4 separate regions of the Homo sapiens genome follow, and all the other regions are linked to region 2. The links come from fine-mapping of genetic effects on gene expression. A gene starts in region 2. Each other region holds a variant in brackets. All regions are shown on one strand. Distances are from middle to middle.

Region 1 (8,110 bases), 27 kb before region 2:
GCTAAAATATATAATGTTTATTATATGCCAGGCAGTATTCTGAATACATATGTCACTCATTTAATCCAACAACCCTATGAAGGGTTTTCTATTATTATCACCATTTTAAAGCCTCCCCCACTAAATGAAAAACAAATTTAGAGGAAGGAAAGCAGTAATGAAGAAGTGTCTTAGTAGAAAATGAGGAATGAGGACGCATTTGTTCCCTGGGTTCCCCATTCCTTGATTTATAATATAATCTCAACTCCTTGGTATCCCCCTAGTTTTCTTCCCACTTGTGATTCTGTGGTAGATTAGATTATTGTTCCTCCTCTCCTCACCTTCTTAGGAGGAGTCTACTTCCCTCCTCCTGACTTAGAGCTTCATGCTTTGGCCAAGGAGATGTTAGCAGATATAACACTGAATCATAAAATATTCTTCTACAGTTGCGCTTGCCCTTTTGTACTTCTGTCCTGAGAAGAGGTTCCCTGGATAGCTCCTGCCCCTTCAGCCTGGAAATAAAGGTGACCACATGAGACATTTGCCCCAGCCATACCCCAGATTTCTCAATGCCTGAGTGACTGGGGCAACTGCCTCCAGTCCCACAGAATGTTGAAGACCAACCAGCCCCTTCCAAGAAACTCTTTGGAGACTCATAGTTAAGAATCTAAATCTATATGCACAGCACCAGCCTCTGAATTTCCTTTTTGGTTATGCTGGAAGCTGAACCAGATGATGGGACAGAAAAAGAACTAGAGCCTTACCTTCCACTGCTACTTAGAGTATTTCCCCCATAGCAAGTAGTCTTTAGATTTAAAAAAAACAAATTTTTTTTTTTGAGACAGTGTCTCACTCTTGTTACCCAGGCTGGAGTGCAATGGTGTGATCTATGCTCACTGCAACCTCCGCTCACTGCAACCTCCGCCTCCCGGGTTCAAGCGATTCTCCTTCCTCAGGCTCCTGAGTAGCTGGGATTACAGGCATGCGCCACCATACTTGGCTAATTTTTGTATTTTTAGTAGAGACAGGGTTTCACTATGTTGGCCAGGCTGGTCTCCAACTCCTGACCTCGTGATCCACGCGCCTCAGCCTCCCAAAGTGCTGGGATTACATCCACCCGCCTCAGCCTCCCAAAGTGCTGGGATTACAGGTGTGAGCCACTGCACCCAGCCAGAAAAAAAAAAATCTCTTAACAGCATTTTGAATTTTCCCCCCAAAAAACCCATAGAAAAGAAAACAGACCAGAGCCAACTTAAATCTCTTAGCAGTCACCAGGAGCTAAGAAAGAGAACCCATATTCCATTTCCCTATCTCATGGACTGACTGTCAGCCCTTTAGTGAGCATGCATGGTTAGTCTTTTCCCCCAAAACTGGCTGTGCTGTAAGGGCATTTTAGAAGTGGAACTGCAGATCCTCTCATTCGGAAGTAACAAGATCACATTCTGTCCATTCCAATCAGTACTTACAGTGAGAGAACTTTCATATACAATCTGGACATCTGGATAATGCAGAAACCAAGTTTTCCACCTAATGATGATAAACTTCACTGTTAGATTAATAATCAGCTTGCAAACCCAACAGTTATATTGGGTAATAGAGGTTCAATAGATGTGTTCTTTTAAATCTTCCATAAATCACTTCTATAAATTGAATCTCATATTAAATGCACCAAAAGCCTATTTAAAGAAATGCCATGTTGAAATTTTTCATAAAGAAAATAATCTGAAAGTAGAGCCTGAGATGAAGTTAAAAAAGAAAGAAAGGAAACAATCACACTCTTGTATTTGTAATGGAAGTTTTGTACACTGGGTGTTCCTAAACCATGGTACACCTGGGATACTTCCCCTACAGGGCAGCCTCTCTACAGGAGGGCACCCACATCCCAAACACAACAATTCAATGCTTTATATCATTCTTTATTTTAAAAGTGCTTTACCAACATATACTAATCTTCACAACATTCAAGGGAGGTAGATAAGTATTACACCACTTTCACAGATGGAGAAACTGAGGCAGAGATTAGTAAGTTGTATTGAGGGGCATAATATACGGCACAATTAGGAAAAGAATTTGTTGCAGTCATGGATCACTGAAGACCTTTCTCATGATTTCTGAGTCCCATCAACACAAAAAGCAGCAGATGCAGCATGGAAGCAGGTCATCACTAGTTTGGCTAGTCTAAGGTTAAACATTACCTTGTTGATACCAGATGTTGAATATGCTGTCCTTTGGCAAGCATCCCCCTCAAACGCATTCTTACATGCTTCCACCTCTAAACAGGAGAGGGGAAGCTGTTGTGAGTGCAGCAGGAGGGGGTGGAGAAACAGCGCTGGGAAGGAAGATGACAGAAGAGAAAACATGAACTGATATAAAAGCGAGGGCAAGGACAAACAAGAGGACCCTCTGGGAACCAGTCCAACAGAAAGGAAAGCCACAGCAGAAAAGAAGTATCATTTGAAAAGCTCAGACATCCAGAAATGCTACTCAAAGTGTAATTCTTAGCAATGACATTCAAAGCCACTCCTCCTGGCTTTGCCAAATATAATCATCAGGTCCTTCTGACATTCCCAGGAAGCAGAATCATTCCTTTCCCTGGTCCAGTCCAAGTGCTGATGTAATTGACCTGACACTGCAGAGACTGTTGACAACTCAAATGTACCCTCCCACCATGCCACCTCTCTTCCTCTGCACATCTAGTCTCTTCAAAACAAAGCAAAACAATGCATTTAATATTCTCCCTGCAAAAATCCTAAGACATTTCTGGAGATTTTGATGCATAATAATGTAGGATTCCATGCATGAATTTTTATAAAAGGGGCACGATGTGTATTAACAGCCCCTCTCAGCGAATGCTTGTTTATACAACATGGAACATTTTTTAAAATTGTGGATACCAACTGTCTAGAGAAAAATTGGAGCGCAAGGGAAAGAAATAACTTCTCTTGATCTTTCTAGTGGGAAGCAAATATAAGAGATGGTGACTGACATCCCACCAGCTGCAATGGAGGTACTGATGGCAGACGAAGCACCAAATGAGTAGGTGAACAAGGACCCAGCAGGGAGGGTCTAAGTCAGATGAACAGGTGGAAGCAGCAGCCCAGAGAGCTGGAGAGGCAGAAGTCAGGGAAAAGACATAGTAGCCAAAGAGGAAATGCATGGAGGTG[A/T]TGGTGTTTGAGGTCTAGGCCTTCCTAGGACAGGTTGGAGCCCGAAATGCATCCTTTCTTCCTTTATTTCAATCAGCAGCATCATTCTTTCAGACATGTAGCTTTAAAATCTTATCCCTTCTCTCCAACAAACAAGGTCAACTGCCAAGCCTTACTGATTCCACTTTGGCAATGCCCTTCACACTGATCTCCCTCGTGGGTTTGTTTGTTTGTTTGTTTGTTTGGAGACGGAGTTTCACTCTTGTTACCCAGGCTGGAGTGCAATGGTGTGATCTTGGCTCACTACAACGTCCACCTCCTGGGTTCAAGCAATTCTCTTGCCTCAGCCTCCCAAGTAGCTAGGATTACAGGCGCCTGCCACCACGTCTGGCTATCTTTTTGTATTTTTAGTATAGACGGGGTTTCACCATGTTGGCCAGGCTGCTCGCGAACTCCTGACCTCAGGTGATCCACCCGCCTTGGCCTCCCAATGTGCTGGGATTACAGGCGTGAGCCACCGCACCCGGCTGTCTCTCTTGGTTTTACTGCAACCTCTTCTGGGTCCTGCTATCATCTCATCCTAACCAGGGACAAACCCTCCTACGTATCCCCTACTCCAGTCTTCTCTCCACTCAGTTCTTTCTTCTACTCTTCTTCCTGGAGTACAGTTCTGATCACATTACTGCCCAAACTCAGAAATTCCCCATGCTGTCACTCCCTCTCAATTATGTGTCTCATTACCTTGAATCTTCAACAGGACCTTGCATCTAGTGAAGTTCCTCTGGTTTCCCAATCTCCACCTGCCAAAATGCCGACTCTGAAGACTTAGCTCCAGTGCCATCTCCTCCATGAAGACTTCCTTCATGCTTCTTAGCTCTCTGCTGAGGTACAAGTGCACTTTGAAGACATGCACTGATCAAGCGCATGATAGCTGTGTACAACCCTTATACTCCCTACTGGGCTGTGTCCGTAATTTGCCAAGGTGGGGGATGATGAACTGTGTCTTAATATTTACCTGTCTATCCCCTACACCACCTACCAAGAAATGGTTATTGCATTTCTACCTCGGGTAAGAAACTGCTCAAAAGTGAAATGAATTGTGATATACTTGCTCACAAATGGAGACACTGAAACAAGTACCCTGTAATGTGATCTGACTCTCAGGATAAAACCAATTCATGATAGAGCTCAAGGAATGGGACAAGGGCAGGCAGTTTGGACTACATATTTTGGAGTCAAGAAATCTGGGATTGAGGTTCTGCTTTGCCATTCGCTAGCTATCTGCTTGACACCAGGTGGTTCTTCTTTGAGCATCATTTCCTTCCTTCTGCATGGCCTCATGGGATTAAGAATAAAATGAGACACAGTTGTGAATGCTACATCAGTGATTCTCAATCCCAATTATGCATCATAATCCCCTGTAAAGCTTCTGAAAAATATAGAGGACAAGGCCCCAGCCCAGGTAAATTGAATCAGAATCCTGTGGAAATGGGACGCAGTGGGACTAATCATTTATAAAATGCTGTTTCTAATGCATAGCCAAGGTTGGAAGCTACTGTTATAAACTCATAAGTACCATTAACAGTAGAGCAAGGTGCTTTAGGCTGCTGGTTTAATTATCCTTTATATGTAAAGTTAGGAATCAGTTCAATGCTTTTATAGTTCCATTAAAATACACTACTGTGTGCAAGCATTTTTTGTATTCTTCTGCATTGTTGCATGGTTAAGTTCTGAAAGAATAATATCTAGCACCACTGTATGTAAAGATGTACCTAAGCCAAATTTTTGAGAAATAAAAACTTCATAGAGTCCTCTGAAACCTTGCTATTCAGAAGTGTGGTGACCAGACAAACAGAACTGGCATAAACCAGGAACTTGTAAGAAATGTAGAATCTCAGACCCCACTCCGTACTCTCTATAAAACGAGGTTCTTAAATGTGTCAATAGGTGAAGCAAAGGCAATCTTTGCTCAGTTCACATGTATGTTTAGGGTCTGCCATTCCCTGTCCTAATTCTAACAGGGTAGGAGGGCATGAATCATCAGATTCTCTCTTCCACAAACCACTGAAGATTGGGACTTTATCCTGATGCTTCTTTCTCTAAAAGGGTCCATTTGGTAAAAACTAAATTAAGAACATAAATCCTTACAAAAGGATCTTTTCTTTCAAAGAAGACTAGTCTTCACAGGCTTTCTTCAAATAACCAGTTCCTCTAAGACATTGAAAATATAATTCGGTGTTTAAAATAAATTCATACCCGTTTTGTGTGCTGTGCATAAATAGCAAGTATATGTGTACCTTACCAAACTTATGGTCCCCAGTCCCCAAATTCCAAAATTATGCAGGAGGGAAGGTTAGCCATTGCAGTAAACAATTTCTCCCTATTGACCCATGCTCTCCAGCTGATTATGATGTGGGCAGTACTCATCCAAGGCTATACAGACCAGCCGGGCGCGGTGGCTCATGCCTGTAATCCAGCACTTTGGGAGGCCGAGGCAGGTGGATCACGAGGTCAGGAGATCGTGACCATCCTGGCTAACACGGTGAAACCCTGTCTCTCCTAAAAAATAGAAAAAATTAGCCAGGCGTGGTGGTGGGCGCCTGTAGTCCCAGCTACTCGGGAGGCTGAGGCAGGAGAATGGCGTGAACCTGGGAGGTGGAGCTTGCAGTGAGCCAAGATGGTGCCACTGTACTCCAGCCTAGGCGACAGAGTGATACTCCGTCTCAAAAAAAAAAAAAAAAGACTATACAGACCACACCATAGCCAAGAAGTTGTAACAGACTTGGAACGTCATCTAGCCCAACTCCCTTGTTCTGTGGACAGGAAACACTACACCAAGGGTTAAAAGGAGTTACCCACATTCATACGGCAACTTGACGGAGAGTTGAGCTTAGAATTCAGGCCCTGACTCCAAGGCCTATACCACTTATGTGGACTCTGCCACATATACTCCTCCTTCCCCACCACATGGCCTTGAACTCTCACTGTCAGAAACTGCTGATCTGCCTTGGCACTTAAGTGTCACTTTGCTGCTTCCAGCTACTGCTGTCCCCAACACCCGGGGCTGTTTTTAACAAGAGGCTACAGGAGAAGCTATACTGCAGCTCAGTCAAAATATCCATTTATCAATCCATATTTCCGAATATGTTGGTAATGGATCCTCAAAAGGCCCAATGCTAATTATGTAATGCCAGCTACAAAGCATTACTACTGGCTAGCACCATGAGCATGGTGAGGGAAGGGCCTTTCCTTTGGTAGCTAAAGACTAAAAGCAAGGGCAACTATCAACTCAGTAGTACAAAGCTGGGAGGAAACTAGAGAGAGAAGAGAAAAACTGGAGCACAGCTGGGAAGGCAGCACCTTTAAAAAACATACACAGTGTGACTATAAAATTGCAAGTCTTTTTTTTTTTTTTAATAAAACCAACATAACAGAATGTAGAAATCTAAACGAACATTTCTTCCTCAAAGTAGTTACATCCTTAGCTCCAACAAAACTACTATTGTTGGAGACTTATTTAGAACTCCTGTTTGAGGAAAGGCCTTAAAAGGTGGTTTATGAGCCACATTAGAAAATACCCTTCTAAACTTTGGGCTGTTTAAAAACAGAAAATCCATACTCAGAGGATGACACCGAGAAAATTAAAAAGGTGCTGCAGCTCTCACGGAGGTTCCCTAAAGACCTCTAGCAAGTTCTGAGCAACAGCATCACCATTGGAGAAACGTGTAGCCTCCCAGGACAGCCACTTTCCATGGGACGGCATTCATTTGGATAGAAAAGTTCTGCTGTCTGTTTAAAAAGAAAAAAGAAAAAAAAAAAAATCAGCCACACTCCTTTATAGTCACACTTGCATTTGATTAAAAAAAAAAACAACAACAACAACACTCACACGTGGTTCTTGTATGAATTCTAATTAAGAGACATTATATTCAGAATTATAGCACTCATAGTGATAATTTTCAGAAGACTATAACAGCTTCTTTGCCACTTAAGGGGTACAGAGGGTGCAGCTGTTTACCTGAATGAATTCTTAAATAAGTGACTACTACCACTCTAATTTTCCTAGTTGTAGCTCTGTTACAGGTTACTGACCGCCAAGTCCATGTTCCAGACATTCTTTGCCAACACAGATTAATTACAAGAGAGCCACCCCCAAAGTCTTAGGGCGAATTGGGAAAGGGCCGGTTAAATGAGGAAACAGGCCATTCCTTGGTAAAAGTTTGTAGTTTTCTTTCCCAATACATCTTCTTTTTATTGAGAACTTCCATTTTTATCCTGTGTTCCTCCTCTGCCATCTCACACTCTCGCTCTATCTGCTGGATTTTGGCCACATGCACCTCATTCATTTGTATCAGTTGCAGTTGTAAGATGGACATTTGTTGATGGTGTTCTTCCTCATGCATCTTTTTTAAAGCACCTTCCTGAGAGGTTTTGCTCCTGTAGTTTTTATTGGCTGTTATTCTGACAGCTGAACACGAGGGTTCAGGTTGAGAGGTCCCCTCACATACTGGAAAATGTATGAACTCTTTCTCATCATCGCACAGTTCTCTATTTGAAACAGCAAATGATTCTGAAAAACAGTAGCAGAAAACATATGTTCAAAGATTTTACAGGCAGAGAAAAAAAAAAACCAATCCTATTTCAAATGACAGGGTCCTTCATTACAGGATGTATCTAAAATCATGTCTGCTTTGGTCTTCATGTCTACAGGGACCCTAGCCACACCTGACTTTTTAAAAACCCACAAATCAAAAGCAATTTTTTCTTAAGAAATAATGATAAGGGGTTTTGTTAGGTTATTTCTAGAACTTCAAAGTATGGGATCCGTGGTCAGAAACCATTTTTATCAAGAATCAGAGACCTTTTTATGTTGATATTCTAAACTGAAATATGCCCAACTCTGATGAGCGTAGGACCACAATGCAAGGCCAGTGTGGATCTTCAAATTAAGTTCTCTATCAGTCTGATCATGCTTTGCCAACTTCTCA
Region 2 (8,110 bases):
CTAGGTGAAAGAGTAAAACGCTGTCTCTTTAAAAAAAAAAAAAAAAAAAGGCTAGGCATGGTGGCTCACGCCTGTAATCCCAGCACTTTGGGAGGCCGAGGTGGGAGGAGCACCTGAGGTCGGGAGTTCGAGACCAGCCTGACCAACATGGAAAAACCCCGTCTCTACTAAAAATACAAAATTAGCCAGGTATCATGGTGCATGCCTGTAATCCCAGCTATTCAGGAGGCTGAGGCAGGAGAATTGCTTGAACCCGGGAGGTGGAAGTTGCGGTGAGCCGAGATTGCGCCGTTGCACTCCAGCCTGGGCAACAAGAGCAAAACTCCATCTCAAAAACAAAAAAAAAAAGAAAAAAAGAAAAAGAATAAAGTGGCAGTGATGGAAGAACCTCTCTTCCAAGCCTCAACCTCTCTCCTTAGCATCAAACACATTTCCAATTATCTATCAGCCACCTCTGTGCCCCACTATGGGTACCTCAGAAAACTCCAACTCTCCATAGCCAAAACCAAACTAATTATTCCCCATACACCAAAATCTCCTGATTTCTGATGATGTCAGCCACATCAACTTGGCTTCCCAAAGCAGAAATGTAATCTTCAATCACATGCAACTAATTAACAAGACCTATGGTACATTTTACCCAAACATCTGTTCCCTCCTCTCCCATTCTCACTGCCCATGTCTGTGGACAGAGCTAATCTCTAAAATGGTCTCCCAAACTTCCATACCCTCTTCCACACAACTACAGGGATCTTCCTAAAACACAGTGATCAAGCCACAGGCCTCCTTGTAAACCTCAGACGTCTCTCCCACTGCCTAAACGATAAAAGTCCCAACTCTTCACATGGCATTCATGGCCTTTCCGGATCTGGTCCTGATTATAGCACCCCCACCAGCCCCTCATTCTCTCCATGTATTTTCAACCTAACCAGACCAAACTCAACACGCGGCTTCCTTTGGCTGGAATCCTTTACCCCAAGGCCACCAAGGGCCCATTTTCAATCTCTCTTTTTTTTTTTTTTTTTTGACACAGAGTCTCACTCCCAAAGTGCTGGCATTACAAGCGTGAGCCACCGCGCCCGGCCCATTTTCAATCTTCAAAGCCCAACTCTCATGCAATTTTTGTTAAGCCTTCCTCAATTAATACCCAGTCTGTTATGTTTATTTTCTTTATAACGGCTTCCTTCTAAAATGGGTTTGAAGCAGCTTACAAATTACACACACACTGCAACTAGATTTTTTTTTTTTTTTTTTTGAGAGAGAGAGGAGAGACTAGCAGGGCAAAGATAAGACAAAGGTAAAAGAGATCAAAGTTAGGTGGTAAAGGAGCATTCAAAACCTGTGTCATAGCTGGGCACGGTGGCTCACGCCTATAATCCCAATACCTTGGGAGGCCAAGGTGGGCAGATCACCTGAGGTCAGGAGTTTGAGACCAGCCTGGCCAACATGGTGAAACCCCACCTCTACTAAAACTACAAAAATTAGCTGGGCGTGGTGGTAGGTGCCTGTAATCTCAGCTACTTGGGAGGCTGAGACAAGAGAATCGCTTGAACCCAAGAGGTGGAGACTGCAGTGAGCCGAGATCATGCCACTGCACTCCAGCCTGGGCAACAGAGCGAGACTGTCCCCCCCCAAAAAAAAAACAAAAACAAAAAACAAAAACCTGTGTCATAAGGTCTCATACTCACCTTGTTAGATATAGATTGGCCCTGAGTTCCCACTGGCTCAGAATGAGTTACTCTTCTATGAGCTCACTGACAGTTGTACATGACTGTACTGTAGCACTTCCCATATTTTTTGCAATTTGCTCTTTGCGTCCATCTCCCACACTGGACTGGGAAATTCCTAGGGGAATACATAATTTCTGACTCATCGCTGTATCCCCAGGATGTAACATATGACTCAGCACATGACTGGTGCTCAGCAGACATTTGTTGAATGAATGTTATCACGGACAGGGAATACGGTACTAGTGCTTGTTGAACTGCACGCCAGATATGTGAAAAAACATTATTTTATCCTCACAAAAAATGTACAAAGCTAAGAAATGGCAGAGCTAGGATTCAAACCCCAAACTGTCTATCTCTCCAAAGCAATTGCTCTTCCAAGTATGCATGATGTTCCCTACCTTCACCATCGCTACGTACCCACCTACTCTCTGCTTCAATGCCTGGTTAAAAACAAAATAAACCACCCTTCTCCCAGACGTCTTTCCTACTCACTCAGGACAGGAGTGCCTGAGTCCAGCCCTTGATCTTCCACAATACGTTAACAAATCATCACCAACTGGGAGAGGAAAGGGTGCCCCCTTGGTAGCTGAGAACTGAACAGCCTGTTGGGTATTCTGCAGATGGTGGGGTGAAGTCCTCAGCTCCTTCTTCTCCTGCCTTTCCCCACAGGTGCAGTGCCTGGGCCCTTCCTGCCTCTCTTCCTTCTTCAGGATCCAAAGCCTTTTTAGTTCTCCCCATTCTAAACCCAAAATAATCTCCTCAGGCCCATTACTTCTCTAACCCAGTGAATGGTGTTGAAAATGCACTCTTCCATTATATCAGTGAGACCTTTGTATTTTAAGCATCTCATCAACCATTAGGGCTGGCAAGCATCCCCATGCCCTGAAACACAAGAATTTTGTGAGAAGGGATAATGGCATTTTAGGAGGCCCAATCACCTGACCCTCCATCAATCTGAATATTTTTGGCGGCCTGGGAGTAAAAAGAGACAACCTATAACATCCCTCCCCACCCCCTGCCCCAGCAGCCTTTGTCCCCTAGCCCGGGTCTCTACGGGAGGGATGAAATCTGGCCCAGCAATGCTGCAGGGGAGGGATGGTGAACCCTGGTGCCTTCCTCTACATCTTCCTCCAGGACTTCAGAATCCTTCTTCTCCCCCTTGTCCATCCCATGTCTCTCTCTGGCCCTGGACTCCCACAGCCATCCTCAATCCTAACTCAGAAACTATGTTTTTTAATTAATATTCAGCAATTTCCTTGGAATACAATCATCTGCTCTGACATGCTGAAAGGCACACTCTCTGGCCCTGATATTATCCTACCTCCAGTTTTAAATGTATGACAAATATATCCCTGCATCCTATAACTACTCTCCTCGATACTGCAGGAACGTCTGTAATGTTAAATGTTATCACGCCTAAGAAATACCCAACCTCCTGAATCGGAATAGGGAGACTAAATTCTTCACTGTTTCGTACTCCTAAATAAAGATTATTCATGCAATTTACAGTAACTACCTCACAGCGCCAGGGTGATGATTCAATGATAATTCATGCCAACTGTTTAGTACCTAGGGCCTGGTACATACAGAGTGCTCAAAATTTAGCTGTTATCATTTACATACATTATCTTTCACAATAGTACCTGAGGGTAGATATTATACCACGCCCCCCCGACCCCCGCCTCTAATTTACAGAAACAGTAGCCCCGGCTCGGAGTAAAGGAGCTTTCCCAAGGTCAGTCAAGCAAGGATGTGATGCTCGGCCTTCATCCTGCAAGTGAGGGATCCCTCCCGTTACACTCTGGACGGGCGGGGCACTGGAGGTCTTAAAGGAGACAAGTATGGAAAAGCGCCGAGCACAGTGATCAGCACACAGTGGGGACGCCGGGATGGGAAGACCGCGGTACTGCAGGTCACCTGGATTCCCCCCGAGCAGCTCCCCGAGCCCGGGAGTCCAAAGCCCACCCCGCTCCCAGCCGTGGGCGCGCCACTGAGTACCCCAGAGGCCCGCGCCCCGGGGCTTTGTAGGCAGCAGGCCGGCCCTACTCACCGAGTCCCATCGCGGCGCGCAGAGGCGGCCGCCCGGCGCCCAGCCTGCAAGGCCGGGGTCGCAGCGGCTCGGCCCGAAAACCCTCCATGCCGGCCCCCGGCCCCCTCTACGCCCGGCCCGCGCCCCCCACCCCCGCCCCCGCCCGGCTGCGGCCCGCCCGGAAGGGGAGCCTCCTACCTGCAGCGGCGGCGCGGCAGCCGCGGCGACCGGGGGAGGGGCCGGCGAGGCGCGAGGGCGGGCGGCCTGGGCTCCTCTCGCAAGCAGGGCGGCCGGGAGGGCCGCGGGCTCCCGAACGCCGGGCGGCGGCGGCGGCGGCGGCGCGCCCCCGGCCGGCCAGGCCCCGCCGCGCGCGCCGCGGCCACAAAGCCCGGACGCCGCCGCCCCCTCGCGGACCGCCCGCCGCCTGCCGGTCCGTCGGCGCCGCCGAGGAGGGCGGGAGCGCGGCCCCGCGCCAGTCCCCACTTCCCCGAGCTGCGGCCGCCGGCCTCCAGGGGACTGGGGCGGGGCGCGGGGTGCCCCCCCGCCCACCTGCCCGTCCGCACCGACCCCGCTCCTGACATCCTCGGGCTGACGTCCTCGTGCTGATTTAGTTGCCTTTTTTCCCCACCTTTGCAGAGGAGCTCCTGAAGCGGCCCGAAAAACTGTTTTATTTCTATGAACAACAAAAGAATACATTTGTCACACGGGATTTGGCGGCCATGAACACGAGTTAGTTCAGTCCAGGTCCCCCGACTGAAATAGGCCCTTTTCTTTTAGGACTCCTTGATACTTGGGACAGCGAATCCCCCTATGCTGAGTTTATCAGAACTTCTGTTAATTTGTGGAACGTGCCTCCCCCAGGAGAGCGACTGTGCTCACTGGAGCCCAGGACCTGTCTCGGACACTGTGCTGACTCATTTGGAATTAATGCGTGTGTAAATGCATGCACAACAGCTCAAACTGTCGGGACAAGCCACCCTTTGCTCCTCCCGCAAACAGAGTGGCTGGATGTTTCTTTTGCCCTGGATCCATTGGGAAGACTCCAACCCCAGAGAAAGGCAGAGAAGGCTTTTTAACTTTTTTTTTTTTTGAGGTGAAATTCGCATAACATAAACCACTTAAAAGCGAACGATTTGGTGGCATTTATTACATTCATAATGTTGAGCAACCACTTCTATCTAGTTCTGAAACATCCATACTCCATTAAGCAGTAATTCCCCAGTCCCTCCTTCCTCCAGACCCTGGCAACGACTCAGCTATTTTCTATCTCTGTGAGTTTACTTTTTTCTGGGTATTTCATATAAATGCAACCATACAATATGCGGCCTTTTGTGTCGTTTCTTTGACTTAGCCTGTATTTAAGATTCATCCATGTTGAGGCGTGGATCAGTACTTCATTCCTTTTTATGGCTGATTAATATCCCATTGTATGTGTATATTATAATTTGTTTATTCATTCATCCCTTGATAGATATTTGGGTTACTTCCACCTTTTGGCTATTGTGAATAGTGCTGCTCTGAACATGCCTGTACACATATTTGAGTACCTGTTCCCAGTTCTTTTGGATACATACCTAGGAGTGGACTTTCTGGGTCATAGGGTAATTCTATGTTTAACTTTTCCAGGAACTGCCAAAAAGTTTTCCACAGCAGCTGAATGAATCATTTTACATTCCCATCACCAATGTTTGAGGGTTCCAAGTTTCCACAACCTTGTCAACACTTGCAATTTTCCGTTTTTGTGTTTTAATTCCTTGAACATTTTTGAGACTATTGCTTGCCCTCCCAACTCCCACTATCCATAGCCCTAAAGTAAAAACTGATCTAGGTTTTCACTATGTACAAAGAATCACGCAACCCTTTCTTTCTTCCCTCAAAAAACAATCCAGGGCAGAAGCACCAATAAAAATAAAGACCCTAAACTAAGAGCTATACTGGTCCTCATTCTTTTTCTTTTCTTTTTTTTTTTTTTTTTTTGAGACAGAGTCTGCTGGAGTGCAATGGTGCAATCTTGGCTCACTGCAACCTCCGCTTCCCGGGTTCAAGCAATTCTCCTGCCTCAGCCTCCCAAGTAGCTGGGACTATAGGCATGTGCCACCACTCCTGGATAATTTTTGTAATTTTAGTAGAGACAGGATTTCGCCATGTTGGCCAGGCTGGTCTCGAACTCCTGACCTCAAGTGATCTGCCCACCTCAGTCTCCCAAAGTGCTGGGATTACAGGCATCTCATTCATTATTTTAACAATAATTTGTCTGATGTCCAGGAGGCCTTGAAATTGTCCAGAGAGCCTGGAAACTAAAATTATACCAGGGGAGTTGCTACAATGTGCTAGCAAACAAGCTATGATACCACACCGAAAGCCAAGGCTGTACATCATTTACACTTGTTTTCCACTTAGTGCCATATTATAAGTCCATGAAGATTCCCTTCTTACATGCAGATACGGTCAAGGGAAAACTATTGGGGTGTGACATTGGAAGGTCAATTCAGATTGGAAATTTGATTGATAAAGTGATACAGTGTGGAAAAAGCACTAGATAAACGTGAACTAAGTTAAGCTCCTGAATCTCAGTTTTCTCATTTCATTTTTTTTTTTTTTTTTGAGACGGAGTCTCGCTTTGTCACCCAGGCTGGAGTGCAGTGGTGGCGCAATCTCGGCTCACTGCAAGCTCCACCTCCCGGGTTCACGCCATTCTCCTGCCTCAGCCTCCCGAGTAGCTGGGACTACAGGCGCCTGCCACCACGCCTGGCTAATTTTTTTTGTATTTTTAGTAGAGACGGGGTTTCACCATGTTAGCCAGTATGGTCTCGATCTCCTGACCTCGTGATCCGCCCGCCTCTGCCTCCCAAAGTGCTGGGATTACAGGCATGAGCCACCATGCCCGGCCAGTTTTCTCATTTCTAAGATGGGAATATGATGCCTACCTGGCTGGGTAGATAAAAGCTTCTAGTCTTAACTTCAGCAAATGATCAGTGTTATTTTATTGATTTAAATAATGAAGATTGTGGCTCATGCCTGTAATCCCAGCACTTTGGGAGGCTGGAGCATGTGGATCGCTTGAGCCCAGGAGTTCAAGACCAGCCTGGGCAACGTGGCAAAACCCCATCTCTACCAAAAATACAAAAATTAGCCAGTCTCATAACCTGGTCTCAAAATAAATAAACAGATAAAATTTTAAAAATAAAAAAATTAATGCTGTAATAAATAAATAAATAATGGTGATTGACATGAGCCACATGTAGGTGTACTGCTAAGGAGACATGGGAAACTCAAATTTAGTCATGTGTCTCTCCTCAAACAAAGAGAGCAGACTATCTTAAAAACTAATGGGGCAGGGTAACTACTCAGGCCTGCAATATGGTGGCTGCCTTCCCAGCTCTCTCCTTGATCCCTGACTTAGTTCTGCATGCTACCTTGGACAACTGACTTCTTTTTCTTTTTTTTTTTTTTTTTTTTACTTTGGATCACTTACATCAAATTAAATAGGTTTCTTGAAAACACAGAGAAAACACTCAATAAATGTGAGCTATTTTATCAATAATAAAGCTATTACAGTTTCTTTGTAGAAAGTGTTAACAGAAGGGCAGCGTCTACACAGAGTCTAGGAAAAGAAAACCATAAAGAACTCATCCATGTGACTTGTCCCTTTTTCAAATGCTGGAGGGTCCCTTCAGGAGATCCATTCCTGTGATGGAGATGAGTGATGCATTGCGCTCCACAGGTTGCTGAGAATAGCTATACATATTGTATCTTTTTTGCTAGGATCCAGGCTCACCAAGCAGTCTTGATATAGTAGTTGATTTCAACGACATCTTTTTTTTTTTTCCTTTTTTATTCCTTTTAGAGACAGGGTCTTGCTCTGTCACCCAGGCCAGAGTGCAGGTTATGATCATAGCTCACTGCAGCCTCAAATTCCTGGGCTCAAGCGATCCTCCCACCTCAGCCTCCCTAGTAGCTGACACTACAGGAGCATACCACCATGCCCAACTCATTTTTTAAATTTTTATTTTTGTAGAAAGGGGGTTTTTCTTTGTTGTCCAGGCTGGTCTTGAACTTCTAAGCTTCAAGCAATCCTCCTACCTCAGGCTTTCAAAGTGCTGAAATTACAGGCATGAGCCACTGCACCCAGCCTGGTTTCAACAAAATTTTCTTTTCTTTTCTTTCTTTTTTTTTTTTTCTCGAGACGGATCTTGCTCTGTCGCCCAGGCTGGAGTGCAGTGGCATGATCTCAGCTCACTGCAACCTCCGCCTCCTGGTTTCAAGCGATTCTCCTGCCTCAGCCTCCAGAGTAGCTGGGATTATAGGCGCACGCCACCACACCCAGCTAATTTTTTGTATTTTTAGTACA
Region 3 (8,110 bases), 290 kb after region 2:
AGTCAAATCAGCCAAGCATTTTTTCAGGCTCTTGGTATTCAGTGAAACCTTTATTTCCCTTACGGTCCTCAGTCTTCAGGAAAGGTAGAATGGACTAACGGTCTTTTAAAAACACACCTCACCAAGCTCAGCCACCAACTTAAAAAGGACTAGACAATACTTTTACCACTTTCCCTTCTCAGAATTCAGGCCTGTCCTCAGAATGTTACAAGGTACAGCTCATTTAAGCTCCTGTATAGATGCTCCTTTTTATTAGGCCCCAGTATCATTCCAAGACCAACTTGGACTGTGCCCCAAAAAACTTGTCATCCCTACTATCTTCTGTCTAATCATACTCCTATTCACTGTTCTCAACTACTCACACATGCCCTGCTCTTGTTTACACTGCTGGTTTACACTGTTTCTCCAAGCCATCACAGCTGATATCTCCTGGAGCTATCCCCAAACTGCCACTCTTAACTCTTGAAGTAAATAAATAATCTTTGCTGGCAGAACTATGCTGAACCTCCTTAGGCACTCTCTAATTAAATGTCCTAGGTCCTCCCAATTCTTAGTCCTTTAATACCTGTTTTTCTCCTTCTCTTATTCCATTTAGTTTTTCAATTCATACAAAACCGTATCTAGGCCATCACCAGTAATTCTAAATGACGAACGTTTCTCCTAACAGTCCCACAATATCACCCCTTACCACAAAATCTTCCTTCAGCTTAATCTCTCCCATTCTAGGTTCCCACACCGCCCCTAATTCCGCTCGAAGCAGCCCTAAGAAACATCGCCCATTATCTCTCCGTACCATCCCCCAAAATTTTCGCTGTCCCAACACTTCACCACTATTTTGTTTTATTTTTCTTATTAATATAAGAAGACAGGAATGTCAGGCCTCTGAGCCCAAGCTAAGCCATCATATCTCCTGTGACCTACACGTACACATCCAGATGGCCGGTTCCTGCCTTAACTGATGACATTCCACCACAAAAGAAATGAAAATGGCCTATTCTTGCCTTAACTGATGACATTATCTTGTGAAATTCCTTCTCCTGGCTCATCCTGGCTCAAAAGCTCCCCTACTGAGCACCTTGTGACCCCCACTCCTGCCCGCCAGAGAACAACCCCCCTTTGACTGTAATTTTCCTTTACCTACCCAAATCTTATAAAACAGCTCCACCCCATCTTCCTTCACTGACTCTTTTCAGACTCAGCCCGCCTGCACCCAGGTGAAATAAATAGCCTTGTTGCTCACACAAAGCCTGTTTGGTGGTCTCTTTACACAGACGTGCATGAAACAAAGGTCATATATGATTCCTTTTTACATGAAATATCTATAAATCCATAGAAACAGAATGCATACTGGTGGTTGCCAGGGGCTAGGGAGAGAGGGCAATGGAGACAAACTGTTTAATGGATAAGTGGTTTTACTTGAGAGTGATGGAAATGCTTTGGAACTAGATAGAGGTAGTGGTTGCACAACATAACGAATGTACAAAATTTCTCTGAATTGCTCACTTTAAAGTGGTTATTTTGTCTGGGTGCGGTGGCTCATGCCTGTAATCCTAACATTTTGGTGGGCCAAGGCGGGCTGATAGCTTGAGCTCAGGAGTTTGAGACCAGCCCAGGCAATAAGGCGAAACCCCTGTCTCTATAAAAAATACAAAAATTAGCTGGGCGTAGTGGTACGTGCCTATAGTCCCAGCTACTTGGGGGCTGAGGCAGGAGGATCACTTGAATCCAGGAGGTTGAAGCTGCAGTGAGCCCTGATCACACCACTGCACTCCAGCCTGGGTGACAAAGTGAGACTCTATCTCCCCCCACAAAAAAAGGGTTAATTTTATGCTATGTGTATTTCACCTCAATAAATTGTTTTTAAAAATCAGATGACGGGACTGATTACAGGTTAAAAGGTAAGGTCTTGTTTCAGATATGCTGAAATTGAGATTTTGGGAAGATATCCAGGTAGAGATTTCTAGAAGATAGCTGGAAATATAAGTCTGGAATAAGGGGAGAGGCTAGGGCTAGAGACAAATATTTGAGGGAAAATAGCCGAAACTTATAGAAGTAGATGAGACCTCTGAAAGGTAGAATATATAGAAAGACTTTTATCTTGGGGCAGAAATGGGAGTTAAAGGAAAGGAGTTAATAAAGAAAACAATGAACTATCAAAGGAGTAGCAGAAAAATAAGTTACTGCAGTATCAAAGTCCAGAGAAAATTCTGAAATGAACAAGTGGTCAATATATCAATGAATCAGAGAAACACAGAAGTACGAGAACTGAGAAAAGAGTAAGCCTAGGTAAATTAGGTCACATTGTGCATCATGAAAACAACAACAACAAATAAGTCATTTCTGTACCCTATAATATAAAACAAAGAAGCACAAAATATGTTTGTAAAAGAAATCTCTCCCTACATGCTTTCATCTGTTTTGATTAAATAATGTTTTGACAAGGAAAACCATCAATAAGGCCGGGCGCGGTGGCTCACGCCTGTAATCCCAGCACTTTGGGAGGCTGAGGCAGGTGGATTGCTTGAGGTCAGGAGTTCAAGACCAGCCTGACCAACATGGTGAAACCCATCTCTACTAAAAATACAAAAATTATCCAGGCGTGGTGGCAGGCCCCTGTAATCCCTGTTACTTCGGAGACTGAGGCAGGAGAATCGCTTGAACCCAGGAGGCAGACGTTGCAGTGAGCCGAGATCGTGCTGCTGCACTCCAGCCTGGGTGACAGAGCGAGACTCTCTCTTGAAAGGAAAAAAAAAAAAAAAAAAGGAAACCATCAATAAAAATAATTTAAAAACAAAAGTCGAAATCAATAAAATTTCAAGGTTAAAGACTCTTTATCAAAAGTGCCTATATGCAACTCTTTTGATTTAAATAAGACAGATTTGTTTGAGCAAATGACAGAGCCGGAAAGGGTAGAAGCTGGGTACAGAAACATTAATGGTTGAAGTATATGATAATGTTTCTTCAACTCAAATCTAATGTTTCCAATTAAAGAATAAAAAGATGTTGCTCTGAGGGTTAAATGTATAAGGATATATATATATATAAAATTTTTTTTTGAGACGGAATTTCGCTCTTGTCACCCTAGCTGGAGTGCAATGGCACGATCTCGGCTCACTGCAACTTCTACCCACTGGGTTCAAGCGATTCTCCTGCCTCAGCCTCCCGAGTAGCTGGGATTATAGGCACGTGCCACCACGCCCAGCTAATTTTTGTATTTTTAGTAGAGATGGGGTTTCACCACATTGGCCAGGCTGGTCTCGAACTCCTCACCTCAGGTGATCCACCTGCCTCAGCCTCCCAAAGTATTGGGATTACAGACATGAGCCACCATGCCTGGCTGAGGAGTTACATATATTTTAAAAAGAAAGTTAAAGTCACTAGATGGCTATACCTACTTGCTGTTATTCTCAATTAAAGTTACTTATAAATAAAGCACTTTATACACATATATTATTACGTTGACTCTCAGTCTTTTAAAGTTTAACTCTTTTTAAAGTTAAAAAACAGCAAAAAAATCCTACAAAAAATTCAGTAGAACCTTAATGTTTAAATTTAGTATTTGTTGGTTCATTGAAAAAATATGAGAATTGAATTCAGCTACAATTTTAAATGAAATGCCATTTTCTTAATCACATCAATTAATCACATCAACTTTTAAATACAATTGGAAAAAGTACCTATATTTGCAAAAGAGATTATTTATATGGTTTTCAGATGTTTCATACTCATATATATTTGTAAACACTATGTATAACTTTGCTGCCTTTCAGGGTCTTTGGCATACACATCAATCAGTATTTCAATGTATTTTCATACTTACAATCTTATGATGTAAGTATGTTAGAAATATTATCTCCATTTTACAGAGGCTTAGAGAGTTAAACTACCTGCTCAAGGTCACAGAGTACCAAATGTCTTTGAATTATGACTCGAATATAGATCTTATAAATTCTGATACCAGATACCATTTCTTTTTCATTATGCTATATTTACTCTGCAGAGCACCAGAAAATAACAAGGTCCTTGTTATGCAGTGAAAAAACAAGTTATCATTAAACACTAGCTTTCTCACTTCCTCTGTTCCTGAAGCCCAAGTTTAGGAGTTTAATGGAACCAAGGGTGTTAGGGTCTGGGGAGGTGTGAGAGGAGCAGCAGTGGTCCCCTATATTCCTAAGGTTTCCTTTCCTATCCAGTCTCCCCTGCTTTAGGGACAAAACATCTCCCTCTAATCAAAAGAAAACCTAGAACTCCTTGTTTTCCCATGTGTAAAATAAGAATAATTTCCAAGGCCCTTCCAGTTTTCATATTTTATAATTGATTGTCAAGAATATTCAGATACATTCTAAGTTCATAGCATACTCATTCATTGAACAAACTTTCCTACTGTGTATCTAAACTTTCCAACTGTCTGTCCTTTTTTTTTGAGAAGGAGTCTCCCTCTGCTGACCAGGCTGGAGTACAGTGGCGCGATCACGGCTCACTGCAACCACTGCTTCCTGAGTTCAAGTGATTCTCCTGCCTCAGCCTCCCGCACAGCTGGGATTACAGGCGTGTGTCACTACACCTGGCTAATTTTTGTATTTTTATTAGAGATGGGGTTTCACCATGTTGGCCAGGCTGGTCTTGAACTTCTGACTTCAGGTGATCTGCCCACCTCAGCCTCCCAAAGCACTGGGATTACACGCGTGAGCTACTGTGCCCAGACCCGACTGTCCTTTCTGTTCCCATCTCCCCAGCGACTTTGATCCATCAATAATCCATTCTTTCTCCTAAATTTTTGATGTCTCCTTTTCCTTAACATTTAAACGTGTTCAAATATCTCTCATCTATTAGATTACAAGAGACTTAAAAGACTTATCAACCAAATACAA[T/C]GTATAGACCTTGTTTAGGTCCTGATTTGAATAAATCAACTGTAAAAAAATGTTTGAGATATAATCAGGAAAATTTGAACACTGATTAGGTATTTAATAATATTACAGAATTATCACTAATTTCTTTTTGGTACAATGATATCGTGGGGATATATGAATTATAAATATACTGAAATATTTATGGATGAAATAATAGAATATATAATAAAACAGTTTGAAGTCTACAGAAACAAGTTTATGAATTAATATTTATTGAAAGTGGGTGACGGTTATACTGGGAGAGATTATTATTTATTAAAAATTTTCCCACCACAATTTCTTCCGTCCATACTTTTCCTGATCAATAACCCCATTAATCAATCACTCGTACTGTCTCCATATCCTCATTTCCTGTTTACTCAACAGTGATATATATCTAGCTTGTGTGTCCACTAAATACCATTGCTCTTGCTAAGGTCACTTTCTAACTGAAAAATCCAGTGGAAGCCTTTTAATTCTTATCATATTTATATCCATCCATTTATTGAGTCATTTAGTGGAAAAGGAACTATTCAAATCTTAGCATCATAGTAAAAAAGATGAAACAAATGGATCCTCTTCTGCTTGAAACCTGTCCCTCTGGCTCCATAACACCACTCTGATCTAGTTCTTCTCCTATCTTGTACTGTCTCCTTTGTAAGTTTATTTTCTGTAAATAAACCTTAAATATTGGTGTTTTCTATTTCTAGTCCTCTTCCCATCTATAAACCATACCTGAGCCCTTCAACTACTTCTATGGTTTCTATATGTATACTAATAACTCCAGCCAAGACCTTACTTTGGAGATGCAAACTATCACAATTCATACTAGTCATTATCACCGAAGCCTAAAATTCCATTTTTCACAACTGAACTCGATAACTTCCTCTCAAAATTGTACCTGGACTAGTATATCCTACCTCTATGAGTCATGTCATCAAGAGCTAGGAATACCAGTCAAAAGAGTCCCCAGTAAAACAGGATAGGTATCTAGAGGTTATGGAGCCAATAGCATTGAAAATGCAGCAAAGACAAATGGTATAAGCAGAATAGAGTAGTGATTCTCAAAGTGTGTTGCCTACATCATCACCATCACCTGGGAGCTTGTTAGATAAGCACATTCTCTGGCCCCACACCAGCCCTGCTGAATTAAAAACACTGGTGGTGGGGCCCAGACGTCTATGTTTTAACAAGTTCTCCAAGTGATTCTGCTGCATGTTCATCTAAGAACCCCTGGATAAGAGCATAGACACAGGGCTTTCATATAGCTCCTGAGGCTAAGGATGGGGGAAATTTGACCTGAGTGCTTAACAGTCTAGGTCAGGAACCATTCTTGGTTCCGTCCTCCCTTACCTTCCCTACAAATAATGTCTACCAAGTTCTGAACATTTTATCATTTTTTAAATAATACTTTAAAAATTGAGAATATAACATATACAGTAAAGTGCATAAATCTTAAGCATACAGACTGGTACCTTTTAATGTAACCAACACACACACCGATCCAGAACATTTTCAGCACCCCTGAAAGCTTATTCATATTCTTCTCAGTATATTACCCATCTTTTAGGTAACCACAAATCTGATTTGACTCACCATAGATTAGTTTTTCTTGTTCCTGAGGTTGATATGAACAGCAAATAAATTTTTTATAAGTGTCTGACTTGTTCCACTCAACATAATGTCTATGAAATTAACTTATGTGGTTGAACGTGTCAGCAGTTCATTCATGCAGTGTTCCATTGTAGGAATACATCACAATTTAGCTACTCATTCACCTGTTGGTACGTATTTGGGTTGTCTGCACTATTAAGAATATTTGCTTTTATAAAGAAGTTACACAAATGACCAAAAAACATGAAAAAATGCTCAACATCACTAATGATCAGGGAAATGCAAATCAAAACCACAACACAATACCACCTTACTCCTGTAAGAATGGCCATAATCAAAGAATAAAAAAACAGTAGATGTTGGCATGGATGGGGCGTTCAGGGAACACTTCTACACTGCTGGTGGGAATGTAAACTAGTACAGCCGCTATGGAAAACAGTGTGGAGATTCCTTAAGGAACTAAAAGTAGAACTACAATTTGATCCAGCAATCCCATTACTCGGTATCTACCCAGAGGAAAAGAAGTCATCATACGAAAAAGATACTTGCTCACACATGTTTATAGCAGCACAATTCACAATAGCAAAATTGTGGAACCAACCCAAATGCCCATCAATCAACGAGTGGATAAAGAAACTCTGGTGTATAGATATACACAATGGAATACTACTCAGCCTTAAAAAGGAATGAATTAACAGCATTTGCAATGACCTGGATGAGATTAGAGACTATTATTCTAAGTAAAGTAACTCAGGAATGGAAAACCAAACATCATATGTTCTCACTGATATGTGGGAGCTAAGCTATGAGGATGCAAAGGCCTAAGAATGATACAGTGGACTTTGGGGACTTGGGGGGAAGAGTGGAATGGGGGCAAGGGATAAAAGACAACAAATATGGTGCGGCATATACTGCTCGGGCGATGGGTGTACCAGGTTCTCACAAATCTCCACTAGAGAACTTACTCATGTAACCAAATACCACTTTTACCCCCAATAACTTATGGAAAAATAGAAGTTAAAAAAAGGAATGTTTGCTTTTCTAAATAAAACTATCATGTAATTCTCATACATGTCTTCTAGTAGAAAGAGGCACTTATTTTTCTTAGGTATTACCGGGGCTGGGAGCATGAATTGAGATGAGGGATGTGTGTATGTGTGTGTGTGTGTGTGTGTGTGTGTGTGTGTGTGTGTGTAGCTTTGGCAGATATAGTCAGATAGTTTGCGAGAGTGAATGTACCAATATACATTCTCAACAAAAATGTTGGGGAGCTCCAGTTGCTCCATATCTTCACCATCAATCAATATTGATTGCCAGACTTTTTTACTTTATACATTCCACTGGTCATGTAGTAGTATCTCATTGGAGTTTTAATTTGCTTCTAATTAGTAATGATGTTGTGTACCATCTCATGTGTCTTTTAGGCATCTGGATATAATCTTTTATGAAATAGGGCTACATGTTTCAACATGAAGAAGTTTCAAATACATAATATTAAGTTGAAAAAGCAAGTTGGTAAATGTCACACAGTATAATACCATTAATTTAAAGATGCAAAATAATATGGTTTACCCATAATAGTGTATGTGCACATGTACACACACACA
Region 4 (8,110 bases), 58 kb before region 2:
ATGCAAAAATCTGCCAGGCGTGGTGGCACATGCCTGTAGTCTCAGCTACTGGGGGACTGACATAGGAGAATCACGAGCCGGAGGTCAAGGCTGCAGTGAGCCATGATTGCACCACCACACTCCAGCCTGGGAACAGAGATCTTATCTCCAAAAAAAAGAAAAAGGAAAAGAAAATATTATGTTAAAAGAAATAACTCAGGCACAAAAGGCTACACATTGTATTATTCCATTTATATGAAATATCCAAAATAAATAAATCCACAGAGAAAGTCTCTATGTGGTTACCAGGGGATGGGGGTGTGGAGTAGTGGGACTGACTGTTAACAGGTAGAAACTTTCTGGGGTGATAGAAATGTTCTATAATTAGATGGTAGATAGTGATGATCACTGCACAATATAGTAAATGTACGAAAACCACTGAATTGTATACTTTAACATGCTGAATTTTACATTATGAAAATTATCTCAATAAAAAATAGAAATAATTTTTAAATCATATAAATCATGCTGCTTAAATTTTGGAAAAATTGAAATAAAAAAATTAAAAACAGGCATTATAATATGTTTTTTAAGAGGGACACCCTGGCATCAGACCACCTTGTCCAGCATCCCGGCTCTACCACTTATCACAGCTGTGTGAGCTTAGTAATTTACCACCTATGCCTCCATTTCTTCATCTACAAAATGGGGACAATAACAGCACCTATCTCAAAATTCTGACGGAGGATTAAAGATATGGAAAGCACTTAGAGCAAAATAATAATACACATAATAAGTACTCTATTAAGTGTAAGCTACTATTGTTTTTTATTAGCACCAGTTCTGGAGAAAGTATAGAAAAATGAGCACTCAAACCAACTGTGGAAGTACATAGTGGCACAACCTCTCATGTGTCCATATGCATTGCCATTTTAATTGTCTTTATCCTTTTACCCAACATTTCCAGGAAACTATAACAGATATAAAAGAAAAACATACAAAAACCTATGTCCAAGATTGTTAACGTCAGCACTTTCTGTAAAACCAAAGTAGAAAACAATCTAAATGTCTATCTTTTGGGAATTAAATTATTGACATAATACTACACAGACTTTGGTAGAAACACATGTAGTGATATGAAAAGACAACTAAGACCTATTGTGAAAAAAAACACATTGTAAAACTATACATACAGTTATAATCCCATTATTTTGAAACATATGCCGGTTTACATATATAAGATTTTGCAGGTATACTCAATACATTTCCTTCATTAAACTGTTTTTTAAATCAATAATTAATCTAAACACAAGAACAATGTCCTCTGGTTCTATTTCTAACCACTATCCCTTAGTGTCTGCAACACTAAGTAGAATAGGAGGTAGCCAGAACCCAGGGAAATCACCCACAAAGATGAAAATCTACACAGCAACTTGCATACTGGCACTGAAAAACCTGGTATTAATGATTTTAAAAGATAATTTTTTAAAGACTTCACAAAATTCTGGTGCATTAGAAAGAGTTCCAGACTTGGGGTTCCAATTATTTGATTAAGTAAAAGTAACTATATGATCTTGACCAAGTGCTAAATCTGAGAATCCCAGTTTCCTAGAATTTAAAAAAAAAAAAAGGAGTATAATAATCCCTTATAGGATTCCAATGGTTATAAGAGATCCTTATAAAAGAACACTGCAAACTATGAAGAAAACTGACTGTTACTCTGGCTGAAACCACCAAAAACAAACTTAAAAAGACACTACCATAACCAGAAACCCCGACAAATTTTGTTGTAAAACATTGAATAATTTTTTTAAAACTAGGTCTAAATAAATGGGAATTAGGATGTGCTTATGGTATAACCTTGAAGTAAACAATGGTAAACACAAGTGTACCACCTAGAAAACACCTCAAACCACTTTAGAGAGAGAAGGAGGCTGGGCGCAGTGGCTTAAGCCTGTAATCCCAGCACTTTGGGAAACCAAGGCAGGCAGATCACCTGAGGCCAGGGATTCGAGACCAGCCTAGCAAACATGGTGAAACCCCATCTGTACTAAAAATACAGAAGAAAATTAGCCAGGTATGGTGGTGGGCAGCTGTAATTCCAGCTACTCAGGTGGCTGAGGCACAAGAATTGCTTGAACCCAGGAGGTAGAGGTTGCAGTGAGCCAAGATAGTGATACTGTACTCCAACCTGGCTGACAGAGTGAGACCCTGCCTCAAAAAATACTAATAAATAAAAATTAAAAATTTTTTAAAAAATAAAATAAAGAGAAAGAAGAAAAAAAGCTATAGAAAATGAATACAGGACACTAAAAGATTGAGCTGACTTGTGAACAATAAAGAATCTAAATATATCAACTGGGCTATAAACAACAGAATTGATACAGCAACATCAGCAGTTTAGTTTCACGTGCAAAACAATATTAAATGAAAGCTGACAAGGCAAAAATAAACTGAACTTAAAAATTCCTAGCCAGGCACAGTGGTTCATGCTTGTACTTTGAGAGGCTGAGGCGGGAGTATCACTTGAGCCCAGGAGTTCGAGACCAGCCTGGGCAACATAGAGAGACTCCGTAACTACAAAAGATAATTTTTAAAAATTAGCTGGATATGGTGGCACACGTCTGTGGTCTCAGCTACTCAGGAGGCTGAGGTAGGAGGATCAATTGAGCCTGGAAGGTCAAGGCTGCAGTAAGCCATCATGCCACTGCACTCCAGCTTTGACAACAGAGGGAGACATTGTCTCAAAAAATAAAAATAAAACATCCCAGAAGGAGATCTGACCTCTGAACAACAGTGGCTCCAGCATAAACAGAAAATGCAAAGCAAAACAACATGAATATTTTTTTAAAAGTTCAGGCCGGGTGCTGTGGCTCACGCCTGTAATCCCAACACGTTGGGAGCCCGAGGCGGACCAATTATCTGAGGTCAGGGGTTCAAGACCAGCCTGGCCAATATGGTGAAACCCCATCTTTACTAAAAATACAAAATTAGCTGGGCATGGTGGCACGCGCCGGTAATCCCAGCTACTCAGGAGGCTGAAGCAGGAGAATTACTTGAACCTGGGATGCAGAGGTTGCAGTAAGCCGAGATCACGTCATTGCACTCCAGCCTGGGCAAAAAGAGCAAAACTCAAGTTCAAAAATTTTCTGATGAAAAATGAAATAATTTAGCATAAACACTGAGATTAAAGAAGAGAATGGCAATTATCCCAGATTTCCTCTTCATATTTTTCCATATTCCTCAAATTTTCTACACAGATTATATACTGCTCTTATAACAAAGAAAAAAGGTGTGGGTTTTTTCCCTTTTTTAATCCATGGAAAAGACAGACTCAGAATATTTGCAAAAAAAAAAAAAGAGAGAGAGAAATTGAGCTGTGGTTGAAAATATAATAACCTGCCAAAGTTTTTAAAGGTACAAGAATACGTTAAGAACTTTAGAACCTTAAATGACTTCTGAAAAAATGACAAGGCTGCTGAGCCATGGAAAATACATGATACTTTTTAAAAAATAGATGAATTTGAATAGTAGCAAAGGAATTACAATAAATTAAGTTACCTAATAAACTAAAAGCATATACGGAGAGAATTTTCAGATTTAAGTATAGAATTTCCAAGTACATGAGAAGTATGCCAAGCCCCTAAATGCTCAAGAAGCTAATAATAGAATTATATGAATAAAGAAAATAGTTAAGTTAAGACAATGTTTCTAACAATGTAAAAAATGAAGGGGGATAAATAGGTTGAAGTTATCTCCCAATCCAGCTTAAAAGAAATTGAGAATTTAAATTCCATTAAAGAAACCACATATATAGGGAAAATGAAGGATAACAAATAGGAACTTAAATGAAGATGGTTGGTTATAACAAAGAAGACAATAACAAAGGTTGGTGAGGATGTGGAAAATGGAATGTTCACACATAGCTGATGAAAATGTGAAATGCTGCAACCATTTACAATAGTTTGGCAAATCCTCAAATGTTAAACATAGAGTTTTACATGGACAGCAGTTTGGCAAATCTTCAAAATGTTAAACATGGAGTCACCACGTGACCCAGGAATTCCACTCCTAGGTGGAATACATACACCCAAGAGATATGAAACAATGTATTTACACAAAAACTTGTACATGAATATCCATGGTGGCATTATTCATAATAGTCAAAAAGTAAAAACAAAAAAATGTCTATCAACAGATGAATGGATACTGAATGGATAAACAAAATGTGGTATTATCGAGACAATGAAATATTATTCAGTCAAAAAAAAGGAATGAAATTCTGATACATCCTACAACATGGATTAACCTTAAAAACATCATGCTAAGAGAAAGAAGCCAATTATAAAAGGTCATATTGTATGATTCCATTTATATGAAATGTCCAGAATAGACAAATCTACAGCAAAAGATAGTAAATCATGGCCAGGGTTGGTAGCTCATGCCTGTAATCCCAACATTTTAGGAGGCCGAGGCAGGCAGATCACTTGAGGTCAGGAGTTTGAGACCAGCCTGGCCAACGCAGTGAAACTCCGTCTCTACTAAAAATACAAAATTAGCCAGGCGCAGTGACAGGCACCTGAATCTCA[T/C]GCCGAGGTATGAGAATCTCTTGAACCGGGGAGGCGGAGGTTGCAGGGCGCCAAGATCACACCACTGTCCTCTAGCCTGGAGGATAGAGACTGTTTCAAAAAAAAAAAAAAAAAGTACGTCAGTGGTTGCCTAGGGCTGGATGAGGAGAGGTGGGGATTGGGGAGTGACTGCTAAAGAATGTAAAGTTCCTTGGCCAGGCGCGGCGGCTCACACCTGTAATCCCAACACTTTGGGAGGCCAAGGCAGGCGGATCACCTGAGGTCAGGAGTTCAAGACCAGCCTGGACAACACAGTAAAACCCCGCCTCTACTAAAAACAAAAAAATTAGCCAGGCATGGTGGCGGGCGCTTATAATCCCAGCTATTCGAGAGTCTGAGGCAGGGAGAATCGCTTGAACCCAGGAGGCAGAGGTTGCGGTGAGCCAAGATCGCACCATTGCACTCCAGCCTGGGCAACAGAGAGAGACTCCATCTCAAAAAAAAAAAAAAATGTAAAGTTCCTTTTGGAGGAGATGAAAATGTTCCACAACCTTGTGACTATAGTCGAAAACACTGGATTGTGCAATTTAGAAAAAAGATGATGATGGAGGGTAGCACAGATATCAATTACTTAATTTAATGTAAATGAGTTGAATGCCACTGAAAGCAGAATGATCTATAACTCTATTGGGAGACAAATCCCAACACCTAAAAACTAAAATATAAACACAAATTCAGAAAAGGTTGGGTCCTATGATAACTTCAAGAGATACTTGAAATCTACTCTATACAAAGGTAAAAAGTACAACAAATTATGATACAAAATAATGTTCAATGTATATGTCCTACATAGAATAACAAAAATATAAGAAAAACTGAAAAACTGTGAAAAATAAACCTATCATTATAAGTGGAAGTTTAACTATTTAATTAAGAGGAGATGACAAAACAAAAAATTTAAAGTATGGAACTAAAACATAAATTAACCCTCTCCCTTTGGTAGGGGCCAACTTGACAGAGCCAAGTTCAGGGGAAAAAAAAAACAGACAGACAGACGATAGAGAGAGAAAGAGTAGATACACAAAGAGAGACTTAAAGCAAATGTGGTAAAATCTTAATTGGGGAATCTGGGTGTACTATTACAACATTTTTCTAAGTTTGAAATTACATGAAAATAAAGTAAACTTAAGTAAAAATAATAGTTAATATAACATGGAGACTGAGAAGTCAAGGAAATAACTCTTCTGGATAGAAGAATCTTTCACAAAATTTGTTTTCATACTAGAATACAATGACACACCTTGTTTGTTTGTTTGTTTGTTTGTTTGTTTTTTGAGATGTTGTTTCTCTCTTGTTGCCCAGGCTGGAGTGCAACGGTGCGATCTCGGCTCACTGCAACCTCCACCTCCCAGGTTCAAGCGATTCTCCTGCCTCAAACTCCTGAGTAGCTGGGATTACAGGCATGCGCCACCATGCCCGGCTAATTTTTGTATTTTTAATAGAGACGAGTTTTCATCATGTTGGCCAGGCTGGTCTCCAACTCCTGACCTCAGGTGATCCACCCGCCTCGGGCTCCCAAAGTGCTGGGATCACAGGCATGAGCCACTGTGCCTGGACGCACCTAGTTTTAATATGAAAACCCAGAGATTCCATATGACACATTCTTAGACCATAACGCAAAATCATGAAAAAACCCATCTGTAACATATATAAATTCATGTGTTTCACAACAATGAGAGAAATTTTATCATAAATGACAATGGAGTTAAAGAAACATAATGATCTATATCCACCTAAAGAATTTAGAAAGAGACAAAAGGGAAAGTTTAAGGGATAAAATTAAGAAAAAAAAATAGACATAAAAACATCAGAGAGTGATTCAAGGACAATGGTATAATCAGAGATAGCAGGGTAGGTTTCAAATACAAAGGAGGAAGTGGATTCAAGGAAAGAGTTAAAAAGAAGAACAATACAGTGGAAGTTACAAGGAGTACAGGCAGGAGAGGAGTTCAGACCAAAACACCTAGGCACTGGAGAAATAAGGTCTCCCATCCAAACATATAATTGTGAATAACAGGAATGAGGGAATGTACACCAATTTGACTCTCCTCCAAACAGGCTCTCCATCTCAAATTAAGAGCATCACAACTCACCCCACCATCTCTAGCAGAAGATCCAGAAGTTTAGGCAGAAAAAGATCAATAAAAGAGGCTGGCTGGTTGAGGACTGGGCAAAGTAAAGAGCTCATGCCTCACTAGACAGCACTGACTGATTTTTGCAATGTGGAAATAAAAGCCCAATGCTGACAGTACCTCCAAGTTTAGAAGAGAATGCAGGCCAGAGTGGTGGCTCACGCCTGTAATCCCAGCACTTTGGGAGGCCGAGGCGGGCAGATTACTTGAGGTCAGGAGTTCAAGACCAGCCTGGCCAATATGGTGAAAACCCGTCTCTACTAAAAATTCAAAAATTAGCCAGGCGTGGTGGCGTGCACCTGTAATCCCAGCTACTCTGGAGGTTGAGGCAGGAGAATCGCTTGAACCTGGGAGGTGGAGGTTGCAGTGAGCAAAGATCAAGCCGCTGCACTCCAGCCTGGGCAACAGAGCAAGATACTGTCTCCAAAAAAAAAAGAAAAGAAAGAAAGAAAGAAAAGAAAAGAAGAAGAAGAAGAGTCGGCAGAAAAATAGATTGCCAAGTGAAACCTCCAGATTTTTAATGGCTAACAACCAATGTAACTTTTTTAAAAAACTGTGCAGGCTAGGCTGGGCGCAGTGGCTCACGCCTGTAATTCCAGCACTTTGGGAGGCCAAGGCAGGCACATCACAAGGAGACCGAGACCATCCTAGCCAACACGGTGAAACCCCGTCTTTACTAAAAATACAAAAATTAGCTGGGCGTAGTGGTATGCGCCTGCAGTACCAGCAACTCAGGAGGCTAAGGCAGGAGAATCGCTTGAACCTGGGAGGCGGAGGTTGCACTGAGCTGAGATCATGCCACTGCACTCCAGCCCGGTGACAGAGCTAGACTCCGTCTCAAAAAACAACAACAATTAAAAATAAAAATAAATAAATAAATAAACAAAAAACCTGTGCAGGCTAAACAAGTCCTCTCAATTCTTCCCATTTCTACCATTATCTTTCATCGTACCGCCAGGCTCTTCCCTTCTCCATTCCATCTTCACCAATTTCAGACTTTGTTTTCTAAAACCATAATGTCACTCAAACCCTTTAAAAGCTTCTTGATGTCTTTGAACCAAATGCCAAAACTTCAGATGGGCCTTGAAGACCTTAATGTGGTGGCATAATCTCCTGCCTTAATCCCCGCAATTTAGTATTTCGAAAAGACTCCCTTCTCTTTTCCACCTTTGTGCCTTTCCTAAAGCTATTCCTTCAGCCTAGAATACCCTTCCTAAGAGGTATTCTATGTTCATTCATCTATGTTCAGCTTCTATGTTCATTCAGCCATTAATCTATTCCACAAATAAATATGTAATGGGAACCTAACTTCGTACCAGACACCAATCTGGGCACTGTCAATACAGTGGTAAACGAAACAGATAAAAATCT

The links.
Region 1: its variant is fine-mapped to the expression of MSANTD3 in whole blood (INTERVAL, PIP above 0.99).
Region 3: its variant is fine-mapped to the expression of MSANTD3 in whole blood (TOPMed, PIP 0.97).
Region 4: its variant is fine-mapped to the expression of MSANTD3 in whole blood (TOPMed, PIP above 0.99).

What each region holds. Positions count from the first base shown.
Region 1 is chr9:100,450,139-100,458,248 of GRCh38, reverse strand. MSANTD3 (Myb/SANT DNA binding domain containing 3) reads right to left here. Exons shown (of 3, transcript NM_080655.3): 3 at 6,515-7,692. The coding sequence ends at 7,283. The region is part of intron 1 of MSANTD3-TMEFF1 (MSANTD3-TMEFF1 readthrough); the gene reads right to left. Among named protein-coding and RNA genes, the nearest start is that of MSANTD3-TMEFF1, 12 kb to the right of the region's middle. RefSeq lists a silencer at 2,348-2,642. The variant A/T (reference allele first, on the strand shown) is at 3,144.
Region 2 is chr9:100,423,241-100,431,350 of GRCh38, reverse strand. MSANTD3 (Myb/SANT DNA binding domain containing 3) reads right to left here and starts at 4,208. Exons shown (of 3, transcript NM_080655.3): 1 at 3,958-4,208. RefSeq lists silencers at 3,712-3,831, 3,872-4,101, 4,142-4,371.
Region 3 is chr9:100,133,353-100,141,462 of GRCh38, reverse strand. The region is part of intron 3 of INVS (inversin); the gene reads right to left. Among named protein-coding and RNA genes, the nearest start is that of INVS, 38 kb to the right of the region's middle. RefSeq lists an enhancer at 684-1,257. The variant T/C (reference allele first, on the strand shown) is at 4,872.
Region 4 is chr9:100,481,269-100,489,378 of GRCh38, reverse strand. The region is part of intron 1 of MSANTD3-TMEFF1 (MSANTD3-TMEFF1 readthrough); the gene reads right to left. The region is part of intron 1 of TMEFF1 (transmembrane protein with EGF like and two follistatin like domains 1); the gene reads right to left. Among named protein-coding and RNA genes, the nearest start is that of TMEFF1, 12 kb to the right of the region's middle. The variant T/C (reference allele first, on the strand shown) is at 4,569.